Regions from separate parts of the Homo sapiens genome. Here region 2 is linked to region 1. A link means that fine-mapping ties the variant in region 1 to the expression of a gene that starts in the linked region. Tissue or cell type: whole blood. Region 1 holds a variant in brackets; the other region holds the start of a gene. All regions are shown on one strand. Distances are between the middles of the regions.

Region 1 (5,146 bases):
ATCCTTAAATCCAAATTATGTACCAGGCAGGGAGAAATGCCACCTTCATCTTTCCTGGGAGAACTTATGGTGAGCAAGACCCAGGAATGGGTTGAGCAGAGTTATTCCAACCTGCCCAGCTGGGAGGGAGCGTGGGAGAATTCACAGATGGCAGGCCACAAGCAGCCACCCCACCCTCGAGGGCTGACACTCAGGCAGTGACTGTGGCGATTAATTACATAGACACAGAGGCCAGACACAGAGGCCAGAGCACTGATTAGACACCTCAGTGCGCCAGGCCTCACGCTGTGTGCATCACACGTGTTATCTCATTTGATCTCACGAGAGATCAAATGGGATGACTCTCACCCACCTTTATTCCCAAGAATGTGAGGCTCAGAGAGGGGATGTCACTGGCCCAGAGGCCTCAGCAAGATTGCAGTGGAGCTGGGACTGGACCCCAGCTTCCTGCCTTAAACTGGGGTGAAGCGGGCGTTAGACCTGCAGATGGGTCAGGGGAGCCCTCTCCTTTCCCTTGGTCAAGGCTTGAGGCCCTGTGCGAGCCCTGGGCTTGGGTTTGAATCACAAGCCCCCACATATCCTACCTGTGTGACCTTTGGCAAGTCTTCTGACCTCTCTGAGCCTCAGTTTTCTCATCTGTAAAGTGGGGATCATAATGCATACCTTGTGGGGGTCACCGTGAGGGTTAAATGAGATGCTGAACCTGGGCACTCCCCTCGGGGCCTGCTCATGGTAAGCGCTTACTAAGTAGCAGCCATGAGGATTGTGTGCCATTGACTCTAGCCTCCGCTTCCCTGTCCAGTCTCATCTGCATGGGCACACCATCAGGCTGAGAAAATCTGGACCCCTGGGAGGTCCCCATTTCACGCAGTCACCCCCTGAAGGGCAGGATTGGGGCTGGATGGTGTCTGAATCCCAGGACTGGCTGGTTCGCTGCTCAGTGAACCTATAAAACCTGACTGATGGTGGGTGGGTGGGCAGCAACTGACCCAGCTCCCCGCTAAGCCAAAGCAAGAGGATTCCTCATCCAGTGCCCTCGGGCAGTTGTACATTTCCAGTGACAGGCGTTACCACTTCCAGTGAACTCAAATAAAGGTCTCAGTTCATTCCACTGTGGCAACCAGACCCTCCCACTCCTTATACCCCAAGATGTGCACAGTGGCCAAGGCAAGCTCAGACAGGTGGAACCCACCCAAGGCCTGGGAAAGTCAGAGGCTGCTGACTCGGCAAGACCATTAGCTGTGAACTTGGCTCCTGCCTGTCTGCTTCCCTAAGCAGGTGGTCCTCACGTTGGTGCTGTCCCTGTCCTTCTCTTTCATCTCTCTCCTTCACAGATGATGAGCAGGTCAAGACCATCTCCATCAACCAGGTGCTCTCCAATAAAGACCTCATCAACTACAATAAGTTTGTGCAGGTACAAGGGCTGTGGTGTACCTGTGGGCTGTGATTTGGGAGTAGGCGGGGCTGGAGGCAAGGATGGGATACAGACATCTGAGGCTAACTGTTCATGAAAGCTCAGGTTAGAACAGGCCCAGACAGAGGGGTCCCAACACCCTCTTTTGACCCAGAAGAAGTGAGGGGAGCGACAGGATGCCTTGGTGCCCCCAAAACACACTGGCAAGGTGTCCCCAACTCTGGCCCTCCCCTGCCCCCAGAGCTGCATCGACTGGAACCGTGAGGTGCTGAAGCGGGAGCTGGGCCTGGCAGAGTGTGACATCATTGACATCCCACAGCTCTTCAAGACCGAGAGGAAAAAAGCAACGGCCTTCTTCCCTGACTTGGTGAGGGCACTACCCATGACTCCTTTGCCAAATCAGGCTGCAAACCTCTAAGCTCGAGAGAGGAAAAATGTCTGGTCACAGTCATATTTAGGATTGTGGTGGCCAGTGGGGGTGGCAGGGAGAATCAGGGGTCCTATGGTGCTCCTCAGAAGGGCTTCTAGCTGGCTGACCACCATGGTCCCTGTGGAATGCTTGCTGGCCAAGCCCTGGCCCAAGGGGCATCAGGGAAGGGGTCCACTTGACATTTGTGGAGTGAATGAATGATTGCATGAGGTCACGTGTGCAAAGCACATGGCATCAGCTGGGAACCCAGATGCTCATTCTGCTCTCTTCCTCCCAGCTTGTGGCTCTTCATCCATCCCACATGTATTTAGGGTGTCCTGTGGCAGATGCAGAGATGATTAAGAATGCCCCCTGCTCTCAAGGGACTTTCAGTCTAATCGGTTGAGAGGGAAACTCTTCCCTTCTCTGAGGACATGTCCCAGTGATCTATTTTGTAGGATAAGGCGATGTGGCAGTTTGGAGGTGAGACAAAGCACTTCCAGCCTAAGAGGTAGAACTGGAGATCCAGGAAGTCTTCATGGAAGAAGTGGCTTTTGACTGAGCCTTGAGGGCTTTGCCTCTGATGCTTGTAAATCTTTTTTTCTTTTTTTCTTTTTTTTTTTTTGAGACGGAGTCTCACTCTGTTGCCCAGGCTGGAGGGCAGTGGCACAATCTCACTCACTGCAACCTCAGCCTCCAGGGTTCAAGCGATTCTCCTGCCTCAGCCTCCTGAGTAGCTGGGATTGTGGGATTGCAGGCGTGCACCACCACGCCCGGCTAATTTCTGTATTTTTAGTAGAGATGGAGTTTTGCCATGTTGGCCAGGCTGGTCTTGAGCTCCTGACCTCCGGTGATCCACCAGCCTCGGCCTCCCAAAGTGCTGGGATTACAGGCGGAAGCCACCGTGCTTGGCCTGCTTCTAAATCTTGAGCTTGCCTTTGAAACACCTGGACAGGTGGGGCCCCACCCCAGCGGTCCTGATTCAGCAGGTCTAAAGCACGGCCCGAGGCACTGCTGCCGCGCTAACAAACACCCAGGTGGTGCTGATGCTGCCTTTTAGAGGAACACAGTTTGAGTAGCACTGCTATAGGTCACCCAGCTCCCCTCTCCACTCCTCCCCACCTCATCCCCTAAAAGAACTCAATTTGCCCATTGTCAGAGCCTTGTGGGGAACCTGTCCACACCACCATTGCTTCATGCCCCGCTTTTTC[C/G]TTCCTCTTTTCAGGCAACATTTTGCCCTCCGCTTGCAAAGCCTCTTTTCACTCCCCTTCCTTCCTGTTCGAGGCTATCTTGTAATTATATATGTGCCCCAAGAAGTTTGTGCAATGATTCAGGTTCTTGTGTTCGCAAGAGACAGAGTCCTACTGAAGCCAGCTTCAGCCAGAGGGAGTCTTAATATAAGGACACCAGAAACCTGAGGGCAGGATAGCTGCAGCAGAGCCTGGAACCCTCTCTGTTTCTGTGTCTACATCATTCATTCTCTCTCTTTCTCTCACCCTCTCCACCTCCTACTTCTTCTCCCTCTTCTTCCAGCTTGGCTTCCTTTGCTTCTCTGTTCCTGGGGACAAAGATGAGTATGGCCATGCACAGAGACACTGACACGGGCAGAGACCAACTAGACGCTCCCATTGTCAGTTTCAAATTCCTGGGAGAGGGACTCTGATTGGTCCATCTTGGACCAGCTGTTCTCCCTGGCCCAATCAGTTATGGCCTAGAAGGTTGGGATTCTGCAGCACAAACATGGCAGCTGCCACAATCCACAATTCCAAATTCACATTAGGGCAGTTTCCAGAGCACGTTGCCAGAGTGAGTTCTGCGGATGCTCCCAAAGGCACCTGGCTAACCGGTTCTTCCCAGCCCCTTTAGCCAGTTACCTTCTCATTGCACAGGAAAGGGTGAGTAGCTATTGACAAGGCTGTCTAAAACACAAACCTAGGTCCTGCAGGTAGAGTAGAGGTGTGGGGTGGGAGCCCAGTGATGAAGTGCTGCTTCCCCTTTGGACTGCAGGTGAACATGCTGGTGCTGGGGAAGCACCTGGGCATCCCCAAGCCCTTTGGGCCCATCATCAATGGCTGCTGCTGCCTGGAGGAGAAGGTGCGGTCCCTGCTGGAGCCGCTGGGCCTCCACTGCACCTTCATTGATGACTTCACTCCATACCACATGCTGCATGGGGAGGTGCACTGTGGCACCAATGTGTGCAGAAAGCCCTTCTCTTTCAAGTGGTGGAACATGGTGCCCTGAGACAGCTCCCACCCACCATCCTGTCCCCCTGGGGCGGGCATTGGCCCAGGTGGTGGAGACAGAGACAGGCCCCTGAACGATAAGCACCAAGAGACCCCAAGGCTCCAGATGGAACACTGAGGGTGACCGTCCCTCTCAGAAGCCTTTTCCCTGGAAGTGTCCATGCCTCACCTGCAACCCATGTGGTTCTCAGACTTGAATCTTCTCGGCCCCCCAAAAAGAAGGACCTCATTTCTTATAGCCTCTCCTGTGATTCAACACAACCCATGGAGATGTCCCCTTCTCACTCTGAAATCATCCATTTGGGGACAAATCCACATTGGGGTCTAGAAACATCCACGTATCTCATCAGCCATCTTGTCCTGTGCATCCTAACAGAGGAAGGATCCATGATTCTGCTTTGGTCCAATTGCTTCCTCTCTGCAGAGGAACAACCCTAAAACCAGACCACTCCACGCAGGACAGGCAGGAGAGATTCTTCCTAAAGCCTCCCCCATAAAAAGGGAGCTGTGGATCCACTTAGATCAGGGCGGAACCATCTTTCACCCGGCCAAGCTCCTGCCCAGATGTTGACCCTCACCCAGCGTGAGCTGTCACATAGTAGGAGCTTCTAGATGCATGTGGAAGCAATGAGAGTTGTCCCTTAGCCTTATAAACTCCCCATGATCTGACATGCAGAAATCCAGCCTTGTCCAGAATCCTCCTGGAATTTCTTGGAGACGAAAGTATCTGGGGGATTGTTGGGTACTAGGGAGACTGGGTACAAGGGTGAAAAGTAGTTCCCATAATACACATGGTTGACTATGGTGATCCACCTTGTGATGGTTAATATTAGGTGTCTGGAGAAGGTTGCTTCATTGGCCCTGGGACTTCTCTCTGCAGGAGGAGAGAACGCTGCCTCTCCTCTGGATTGGTCTCAGGCTCTCTGTTGGCCTTTGGTCAGCGTTTCCACATCCTGCTCTGCTGCAGGAGAGGGGGCTAAGGGGCTGGATCCACCAAGGCAGCTCACAGCGGGAAAACTCTGGGAATGAACCACTGAATTCAGGGGATGGGGGTGGGGGGGCGGTTCTCGAGGTGTGTGC
Region 2 (5,146 bases), 27 kb after region 1:
TTTCCTTTTTCTACCCCACTAACATACGATAGAATCCACTTACTGCATTTATTGCTTACTGGCTGTCTCTCTCCCAACAAAAACAAACAAACAAAAAGGCTCTATGAAGGCAGGATTTTTGTCCACTTTGTTCACAGCGTATCCACGGTGCCTGGAACAGTGCCTGGCCATCAATAGGCACTCAGTCAGTATTTGTTGAATTAACAAAACTGCTTTGGGGCTCGTCCTCTTTGTGGCTCGTTCACAGCAAATTTAAACCCCAAACTGCTGAAGAAAATAAGAAAGAAAAGAAGGAACAGAAGAAAACAACCTCAAGAGACCTAAGACTTGGGGTAGAGGCCAGCCCTCCCTCTGATTTGCTGTGTGACCGTGGGCAGGTCCCACTCCCTTTCTGTGCTTCAGTCTCCCCTTCTGCAAAACGAGGACTGGATTGGGTGTTCTCTAAGGGCCCTCCCAACTCTAACAATGGACAGCTCCCTCCTGCCACTTCCCAGTAGAAGCTCAAACTAGTTCTAATCATGCGGTCAGCCAGAGAAATTGGGTTTATTAACACTGTGTGCAGGCAGTCATGTAGATGCGTCAGAACGTCGGACCTGGCCACATCATCATCTGCTGGTACAGAAGATAAATTTTGAGCCCAGAGAAGGTGGTCTGAATCCAGATCCCCACTGTAGGGCTTATGAGACCTTGGGGGTCTCACTCAATCTCTCTAAGTCTTTGTGGTCTCATCTACACATGGGCATCCTGATAGGACGCACTCCATAGGGATGTTGAGATGAGGCAGGATTTGAACTAAAGCCTGTTTGATCCCACAGCCTGACTCTGAATTAATGAGGCAAATTCTTTGCTTCAAAGCCAAAGCAAGCAAACAAAAAACAAACGCAAGATATCCAACCCACGAAACGCTCTATGTTCACGCCAGACTCCCATGCATGCACCCTTTGAGTGCTCCTTGTTGGGACCCATCCACCACCCCCCAGTTGCCTCATTAAAGGCAGAGCCTGGCACCAATGGCCCAGGTGCAACCACAGCTCTGAGGCCACATGGGCATCCCCCTGGCAGGCGTGGCCCACACCTGCACTGTCTGGTCTGACACCCAGAGGCCCTGGCAAGAGGCAGGTATCCTGGAGCATGCAGAGAACATCAACTTCCATGCCAGGAAGCTCATCTTCTCTTCCCAGCTCTGCCGCATTCTAGCTCTGGCACCTTGGGCAAGAGCTAGTCACTTTTACTCTCTGAGCCTCAATTTTCCTTCTGTAAAATGGGTTGTAATAATAAGCCCATATACACCTTGTATTGTAGCGAGATGTAGCTGTGATACAGTCTGGAAAGCACGTGTCATATAGACAGGCAGCTAATGAATCTCACACTCTGGAACTGGACACCTTTGGTTCCAATTCTGGCCCTACCACTCTCGAGCTGTGGAAGAACTGCACCTCTGTTTTCTCCTCTGTAAAATGGGTATAATAATGGCACCAACCTCAGAGGGCTGCTGTGAGGGTGAAATAAGGGGATAATGGTATGATCTAGTTCACGGGTTTGTCGTAATGAGCTATTCTATGTGAAGTGCAGGAAAACGTGCCTGGCATAGAGAATGTGAGCTGTCATGTGGGTGGCCCAGGTGGAGAGACTTGTCCCAAGCCTGGTTGGTCTTTGAACGTGTAGCCTGGCCTGTGACTGCTTACCTAAAATCTCCCCGCTTTTCCCACCTTCTCCTCTCTGATATGCCTGTTTGACATAGGTGAGATTGGATAGATCAAGGTGTTCAGGGCCTCTAGGCAGGGATGGGACTGTGGGCATGAGGACCAGGACCCAACCCCTCAGCCCCACTCTCCACCCCAGGCTTTCTGAGCCATCCATCCTTCCCAAGAAACTGACAGAGCCACCCTGCCACTGGTACCAGCATTGACACCCATCTAGAGGTCCGAGGGGCAGCCCCAGGGCAGAGGAGATTTTGAGAGCCCACACCCCTGACCTGAGTGGGGAGGGGTTGAGCCTCTGGGCCACAGACCGCAGGTGCTGACTCATGGCCTCTGCTGGGCGATATAAAGGAACCAGCCCAGGGGCTTCCTACAGCCAGAGGGACGAGCTAGCCCGACGATGGCCCAGGGGACATTGATCCGTGTGACCCCAGAGCAGCCCACCCATGCCGTGTGTGTGCTGGGCACCTTGACTCAGCTTGACATCTGCAGGTAAGAGGGGGGCCTTCTGGGGTTTTGGAGGCAGGTCAGGAGATGCTGGATGACCCAGTTCTACTGACACAGGAGCATGTGTTTGGCCCAGGCTCTAGGCTCCAGCCTCTGCAGCCACTGCCAGGGGAGTAGCTGGAGAGAGAAGACCCCAGCAGCCCTGGGAAGTGCCAGTCTCATGGCTGTGGGTTCTTTGCCATGTACAAGTGCAAATTCCCCAGGAACACACGACAGATAAATTATTATGGGGCAAACCAGGCCATCCATCTCCCTGTCTTCATCGAGGCAACAGAAGCTTACAGAGAGTCTGTGACTTGCTCAAGGTCACACAGCACGTGTGCCCTGGAAGTAAGGTTAGCCCCTGGGCCTCCTGGTTCACAGCACAGTTTGTTACCCCACATCTCTTAGCTAAGCCTCCCTCAGTGGGTGCATAATAGCGTGGGTGGGGATGGCGAAACGGGGCTCTGTGGCGGCAGAGACTGAGGTAGGAAGCCTGGACCTGCTGCTGGCTAGCAAGGAGGCCTTGGGCAACTGAGCCTCAGTTGCCTCATCTGTGAAATGGGGATAATACTCACATCATGGGCTGGTTATAGGAATTCAATGTGAAAAAATGTGCAGATGTTGGCTGAGTACTTAGCACAGTGGTGGGCCCATCCTTGGTAGTTTTTATTTACTCATTTAACAAATGCTGAGTGCCATGCTCTGTGGCAGGGTCTGGGTTAAACAAGAGAGTTGAGGAATGCTCTCGGGGAGTGTGCAGGGTCATTGTTGTTATTGTAGAACAGGAATTAAAAGAAATTTTAAAACGTGTAAGCAAAAACTCAGTTCTATGTTAAAAAAAAAAAAAACAATTTTCCCTGGAAAAAAAAAAAAAAAAGAGCTGGAGTCCCTTAAAAATTAACTGCCTGTTTTTTTGTGGCTAGTGAGCCTTATTGCTCCTCTTTTTCCAGGCATTGTAAAGACCCTGTTTCTCCAGCTGTGCAGCTGCAAGGTCACTAGACAGATAAACTCAAGCTGTAAAAATTTTTTTCCTTAAAAAGTAAAAAATAATATAATGCATGTCTCAATTAAATAACTGTCTTTGTTTCTTGCCTCTATAATATGCTTCCCCCTGCACAGATCTACCCCCGCCCCATGAAATGCTTAAAAGATAACTTAACTCTTTGTTCAGGGCTCAGTCTTTTGAAATGTTAGCCTGACTGAGCCAGTGAATCTAAATAATAAATCCTCCTCAACCCCTCGGTCTCTCTGATTCCTAAATTATCCTGCAACAATTGCTGTTGTCAGGAATAGGAGTGGTTGCCCCTGGCTTCCCCATCCCAGTCTGGGCATCGGTGGCCCTAGAATGGTGCCCACAGGAGTGCCGGGGACATTTCTTTGCTACTGCCTGAGCCCCAGCAGCCAGAGAACAGCAGGAAATGTCGGGATGGTCTCCCAGGGCCACATGGTGGAGGCAGGAGACCAAGAAGTTGGGGAGAAAAGGAAAAAGAAAATCACCTGACATCATCTGAGGCGCCCCCAACTCCTCTGAGAATGGGTGTGAAGGAAATGACAGGAGCTGAAGCTAGCCCAGGGCCTCTCCCAGCATGCCCAGGCTAGCCCTCTACCCAGCGTCCATGAGTAGTAATCAAGATCACAAGTGCTTCCTCTGGCCCTAGAGAGGTGGGTGGACAGCTGGTCAGTGTTGGGCAGAGAGGAAGGCACTGCCCATTTCTCCCAGAAAGGATGGGGACTCCGGAGTTCACAGGGGCCTCTAAATCCTTCTTTTCTCCTCCTTCAGCCACACGTTGAGCCTGTCACTCTATCCCCTGAACATCTCACGTAACAATGGCTAATATTTACATCACACTTCCTACATTCAACTCATTCAATGGCCTTGGGAGGCAGGTAATGTTGTTATTCCCATTTTACAAAAGAGGAAACAGAGGCTCCAAGAAGTTAAGTAACCCACCTCAAGCCACACAGCTAATAAGTAGGGGAGCCAGGACTCAACCCAGGCAGCCTGACTCTAGGACCCTCCATTCTCCCCATGGGTCTCCGTTCCAGACCTTCCTGTCACTTCTTATCTGTTCTTAACATAGCCCCAGACAGCGCCTCCCTCCCATCTCCTGAGCAGCCATCGGCCTCTTCCTGAACCACACAGGTGGGAGGGCCACTCCCTCCTCACCTCCGCCCCTCATATTCATGCCTCCATAACTTTGCTCAAGCCATTCTCTCTGTCCCCAAAGTCAGGAACCCGGGAGGCAGAGGTTGCAGTGAGCCAAGATTGGGCTAGTGCACTCCAGCCTGGGTGACAGAGTAAGACTCTGTCTCAAAAAAAAAGAGGCAAAAACACCTAACCGAGGGTCACATAAATTAAAGGTGGCAAGCTGGGCACGGTGGCTTATGCCTGTAATCCCAGCACTTTGAGAGGCCAAGATGGGCAAATCACTTGTGGTCAGAATTTCGAGACCAGCCTGGCCAACATGGGGAAACCCCGTCTCTACTAAAAATACAAAAAAATTAGACGGGGCGCAATGGCTCACATCTGTAATCCCAGCACTTTGGGAGGCCGAGGCAGGCGGATCACAAGGTCAGGAGATCGAGACCATCCTGGCTAACATGGTGAAACGCCGTCTCTACTAAAAATACAAAAATTAGCCGGGCGTGGTAGCACGCAGCTATAGTCCCAGCTACTTGGGAGGCTGAGGCAGGAGAATCGCTTGAACCCAGGAGGCGGACGCTGCAGTGAACCGAGATTGTGCCACTGAACTCCAGCCTGGGCAACACAGTGAGTCTCCGTCTCAAAAAAAAAAAAAAAAATTAGATGGGAGTAGTGGCACATGCCTGTAATCTCAACTACTCAGGAGGCTGAGGCACAAGAGTTGCTTGAACCTGGGAGGTGGAGGTTGCAGTGAGGCAAGATTGCACCACTGCACTCCAGCAAGGGCAACAGAGTGAGACTCTGTCTCAAAAAA

The links. PIP is the estimated chance that this variant, and not a neighbour inherited with it, causes the effect.
Region 2: it holds the start of PADI4, and the variant in region 1 is fine-mapped to the expression of PADI4 in whole blood (INTERVAL, PIP above 0.99).

The regions. Positions count from the first base shown.
Region 1 is chr1:17,279,016-17,284,161 of GRCh38, forward strand. PADI3 (peptidyl arginine deiminase 3) reads left to right here. Exons shown (of 16, transcript NM_016233.2): 14 at 1,335-1,414; 15 at 1,656-1,781; 16 at 3,831-5,146. The coding sequence ends at 4,064. Among named protein-coding and RNA genes, the nearest start is that of MIR3972, 3.7 kb to the left of the region's middle. The variant C/G (reference allele first, on the strand shown) is at 3,035.
Region 2 is chr1:17,306,123-17,311,268 of GRCh38, forward strand. It overlaps PADI4 (peptidyl arginine deiminase 4), which reads left to right and starts at 2,075. Exons shown (of 16, transcript NM_012387.3): 1 at 2,075-2,192. The coding sequence starts at 2,101.